Linked DNA regions of Homo sapiens: region 2 is linked to region 1. Evidence: fine-mapped expression QTL. Tissue or cell type: whole blood. Region 1 holds a variant in brackets; the other region holds the start of a gene. All regions are shown on one strand. Distances are between the middles of the regions.

What was found. PIP is the estimated chance that this variant, and not a neighbour inherited with it, causes the effect.
Region 2: ABTB3 starts here. The variant in region 1 is fine-mapped to the expression of ABTB3 in whole blood (TOPMed, PIP above 0.99).

The regions. Positions count from the first base shown.
Region 1 is chr12:107,669,622-107,672,375 of GRCh38, forward strand. No RefSeq gene overlaps it. Among named protein-coding and RNA genes, the nearest start is that of PWP1, 15 kb to the right of the region's middle. The variant G/A (reference allele first, on the strand shown) is at 1,554.
Region 2 is chr12:107,317,210-107,319,830 of GRCh38, forward strand. ABTB3 (ankyrin repeat and BTB domain containing 3) reads left to right here and starts at 1,225. Exons shown (of 17, transcript NM_001018072.2): 1 at 1,225-2,621. The coding sequence starts at 1,732. RefSeq lists an enhancer at 1,727-2,446.

The DNA.
Region 1 (2,754 bases):
AAAAATAATAATAATAATAAATATGATCAGCTGGGTGTGGGGGCATATGCCTGTAGTCTGAGATATTGGGAGGCTGAAGCAAGAGATTCACTTCAGCCCAGGAGTTCGAGGCCAGCCTGGGCAACATAGTGAGACCCTGTCTCTAAGACAAAAAAAAAAAAAGAGAGAAGGAGGAAGAAAGAGCTTTCTGGGCTAAGACAAATGTTAGTCATGTGTATCTGTGATGTGGTGTGATGACAGGTCTACTTGTTCTGGATGTCTTTTTTTTGGTGAGTATTGTTTGGGGGAGAAAGAAGTATTGGGTGGCGTGAGGATTCAATGTAGATGGACCAATGTTTAATGGGACTGAGGACACAGAGAGGACACAGAGCGGACACAGAGATGTGGGAGACAGGGTCCCTCAAGGTGCTCCTTGACACACAGACACAGCTTGGGGGACTTAGTTGCTGCCAAGCCAACTCTTGGCGTGACATGAGGTGGCAGGAGTGGGGACGGACGGCCACTGAGGACCCACCACCCCAGGACAGCCGGGCGCCTCTGGCAGGCAGGTCCACGGTTACTGATTGTCATGGTCAAGCTCAGCTGGGCACTGGGTCCAGAAGGAGATGTGACTGGCCCATTTTGTGTCTTTTATCTGAGCCTGCACCTTTCCTAACTCAGATTTTTTAAATACTTTTTTCTTTATACTCACTTTGTTTTTCTCTGTACTAATACACTAACTCGGATTTTTGGCTTTTATTGGGCCGAGGTCCCACCAACCTGGATGCTCAGCCTTGTTTGGTAAAGCAAGAAAAGTATCTGAGAAATGTTCCCTAAAGGCTGATTTCACCCCAAACAGTCACTCAGTGATGCGCCTCACTTACCAAGGACACACCCCCAAAAGGCATCTCCTGGCCTCCGGGTCTCACTCTGTTATCGCAGGGTGTGGTGGAGCAGGTGTGGTTGGGTGGCCACCAAGATGGATTTCAGTCTCTTTCCAGGCCCAGGGAACAAGCCGAATTCGAGAGACTTGGCTTTTAGCCTCCTGTTAGAGCCAAGAAAGACTTCAAAGACTCAACGGCTTCTAAGGCTTTTTACATCAGCAAAGTCCTGCAAAGCCTGCAAACGAAGGCTGCTTTGAGGCCTTTCATTCTAAGGACAGAGAAGGTAAATTCCATGGCCACTTTCTCCAGAGCAGCAACTGGGCTCCTTCTTTTTACTTCCATGGGGAGGACAAGAGATTCATTTGCTTTCTGTTGCTGAGAATGCTATCAAAACAAATTTTACTTTTAGCTGCAACCTTTCAAAAGCGTCTTAAGCATAAAGCACGAAAAAATCCCCAAGCTTATGTAGGCATTCTAGTTTTTTCGTGGTTGGTGTTTTTTTTTAACTGTGCCAGTTTCAGCTGAAACATGGTTCTATTGTTTCCATTTCCCACTGTACATACAGCACTGAATTCTTGGGGAGCAAAAGTACGAGGGCAGATTGAGAAACCCCAGTTCATGAGAAGTTTGTTGTTGTGGTGGTTGTTGTTTTAGCAAAGAGAGGAAATCGGTAAATAGCTCTGATGTTGA[G/A]ACAGCAGGAGGTCAGGACATTGAGCAACGTGCAGGTGGGGTTGTGGACTCAGGGCTGAGCGGCAGGGGGCGCTCCTCCCAGTGCAAGCCTTCAGAAACACCAGCCTTGAGTTGGACGGTTCTGGCTCATTGTGTGGAGTCCTAAGTGGTCACACTCCACACTCCTAAGTGGTCTGGTCACACAGTTGTTTTAAAGAAGGGTAATGGCTCATTAGGTAGATTTGGGTAGGATGCAGCTTGAAGTGGGGCGTAAAATCCTTTCATTGTCCAATGGGGAGGTCACAGTGCAGCAGCTACTCCTTGTACTTGGAATGAGGGAAACAGCGTAATCTAGACTTGAACACGGGCTCAGGAACCAGGAGCGCCAGCCACAGATCTCACTCACTCTCACTGTTGTTTGCAACTTTGGGCAAGTCAAGTAACTTCTCTGCTGGATCACTGCTTCTCCAACTGTGTGAGCATTTGTAGCTTTTTCCCAAATAAGTACTCTACTTCCTGGCTTTCCAAAGTGGAGCCGGACAGTCGCTTCTGCATCATTGGGAGTTTGTTGGCAATGCAGAATGTCAGCCTCGATTCCAGACCTACTACATGGAATCTGCATTTTAACCAGAGGCCCAGTGCTGAGCACACTGAGGTCTGAGAAGGACTGCTCTGTTCTCCCAGGTCACTGCAATGGTATCAGGTTCTTCTGTTCCTCTCTCTCAGAGGATACTTGAAATGATGCCTGAAAAAAAAGACAATCTAGGCCAGGCATGGTGCCTCATGCTTGTAATCCTAGCCCTTTGGGAGGCCAAGGCGGGAGCATCACTTCAACCCAGGAGTTTGGGACAAGCCTGGATAACATAGTAAGACCCCATCTCTACAAAAGAATAAAAAATTAGCTGGGTGTGGTGGTGCACACCTGTAGTCCCAGCTACTTGGGAAGCTGAAGTGGGAGAAGTGGGGAGGATTGCTTGAGCCTGAGAGGTCGAGGCTGCAGTGAGCCATGATCGTACCACTGCACTCCAGCCTGGATGACACAGCGAGACTCTCAAAAAAAAAAAAAAAAAAAAGATCATCTATATATATGGTCAGGACTCAGGTAAGATCCTTAAGATGTCTTTGTATTCATCTGTAATAAGTCATTTTAAGAACTCCATGTTCTCTGAGGCATTTTCTGAAAGTCATTTGTGCACCCATCTATTGCCAATGATTTCTCCTC
Region 2 (2,621 bases), 350 kb before region 1:
TGTTGAGCATATTTGCATATACCTGTTGGCCATTGTTGAACATTCAAAGCAACAATTTAAAAGCATATCCTTACGTCCTTCATCAATTTACAACAAATATTTACTGAGCACTTATACTGTGCCAGGACTATGCATGGGAACCCCTAGCCCAGTGTAGAATCCAGACAAGTAACCAGGCTTTTGCAACCTAGTGTTGCAAGGGCCCAGAAATCAGCAACCACAGAAGGGGATAGAGGCAGTGGAAGCACCGAAGCCAGTCTTGAAACATCTGGGCCAGCTTCCTATAGGAGGGGATTCTAAGCTGAGAGACACAGTGTGCGGAGCTAGGAATCCCCATGTGTGTAAGATATGGTTTCTGCCTGGGTGGGTGGGGACAGACAAGTAGATGACACGATGCTATTTGACACAGGAATGCAGCTAAGCCATGCATATATATATTATATCTTTCTTTAGTCAGGAAAGAAGATTCTCCTTTGAGCAAATTTACTCCTTTTAAGAAGGCCGAGCTATTTGGAAAGATGCCCACCAGGATGGCAAAGTGGTGCTTGAGCCCTCCCTGCAGCACACGCCCAGGACTTTGAAGCAGGGACAGGGTCCTCCTGGCTACTGAAAGGAATCGAGTTAACGCGCCCTAGTGGCAGGTGGCGAATGGCCGGAGATCCGGCCTCCCAGTGGTGTCCACCGCCACGGGCCTCCGCTCGACAGGCTTATTTCCCTCCATGCTGGAGCAAACCCCGGCTGAAAGAGGGCCGCACTAATTGGTTTGCGTACCCGAAGTGGGAATAGAGAGGGAGGAAAACCATGTTTCAGGTGTTACGGGGGGAAAAAAGTGAAATGCGAACCGCAGGGGAGAGAGCGACCGTCAGGCAGACACCTTGTGAACCGCGGTGGAGAGCACACCTAGGTGGGGAGGTCACCGGCCCAACCCACCACCCTCCGGGAGAATGCGGGCAGGGACAGCAGCAGGGGGCAGCATCCACGTCTCTACGCTTGCAAGGGTTCCCCAAGTCCCTGGCCACTGCTCCCCACTTCCTGCAGCCTCGGTGTCCGCCGGGGGCGTGTGTGAGGGGCGGGGCCGCATGGGGAGGAGGGATTTAAAAAAAAAAAAAAAAAGCGAGGTAATTAGCATTCTCCGATTCCACTGGCTCTCCGCCGCCCCTGCTTTGCATACGCCCGTCCCACTGGCTGCCCGGGGTTTGCTGGGGTTCGGCAAGGTTTGCAGCCGCCACGGCCGCTGCTGCGCTCCGGTGCAGGGCAGGCTGGCGCCGAGCGAACCAGGGCCGGGAACTGGGAGCCGGGAGCCGGGAGCCAGCTGCCCGCGGAGCTGCGGCGGCGGCGGCATCTGGGGTGGTCTCAGTCCCACGAACACCGTGGCCGGCGCCCGGTGGCTACTGCGCCCAGCGGGGCTCAGGGAAGAGCGGTCTAGACACTTTTTATTTTGGAAGAAAGGGGCAAGCCCCGGCGGGAGCTTCCTTCCCGGCCTGGCTCGCTCCCCATTGCGCCCAGCTCCGGCCCGGACTCTGGAAGATGACTCCAGGGTCTGCTCTGTATATTCCAGCGGCGGCAGTTCCGGGAGGCAGCCGAAAGTACTAACAGTTGGTAGCAGCGGCTAGTGGAAAAGTGAGCCAAGGCGGCGCGGACTCGGCTCTCCCCGCGCCCCGCGGCACTCGCTGCTCCTCGCCGCTCCTTCCCTTTGGCTCCCAGGCGGCTGCAGCATGAAGTGGCGCAGCGATGGCCAGGAGAGGTAAGAAGCCCGTGGTGAGAACGCTGGAGGATCTGACGCTGGACTCGGGTTATGGTGGCGCGGCGGACTCGGTGCGCTCCTCCAACTTGTCTTTGTGCTGTTCCGACTCGCACCCGGCGTCCCCGTATGGCGGGAGCTGCTGGCCGCCTCTAGCTGACTCCATGCACAGCCGGCACAACAGCTTTGACACTGTCAACACTGCCCTGGTGGAAGACTCCGAGGGGCTGGACTGCGCCGGCCAGCACTGCTCGCGGCTGCTGCCGGACCTAGACGAGGTCCCCTGGACTCTCCAGGAGCTGGAGGCGCTGCTGCTGCGTTCGCGGGATCCCCGGGCAGGCCCGGCGGTCCCCGGCGGCCTGCCCAAGGACGCGCTGGCCAAGCTGTCGACGCTGGTGAGCCGGGCGCTGGTGCGCATAGCCAAAGAGGCGCAGCGCCTGAGCCTGCGCTTCGCCAAGTGCACCAAGTACGAGATCCAGAGCGCCATGGAGATCGTGCTGTCCTGGGGCCTGGCCGCGCACTGTACGGCGGCTGCGCTGGCCGCACTGTCCCTCTACAACATGAGCAGCGCCGGCGGCGACCGCCTGGGCCGCGGCAAGTCGGCCCGCTGCGGCCTCACCTTCTCCGTGGGCCGCGTGTATCGCTGGATGGTGGACAGCCGCGTGGCGCTGCGCATCCACGAGCACGCCGCCATCTACCTGACAGCCTGCATGGAGAGCCTCTTCCGGGACATCTACTCGCGGGTCGTGGCCTCCGGGGTGCCCCGGAGCTGCAGTGGCCCTGGGTCAGGCTCGGGCTCCGGCCCAGGCCCGAGCTCGGGCCCTGGTGCGGCCCCCGCGGCGGATAAAGAGCGGGAGGCGCCCGGGGGAGGAGCGGCGAG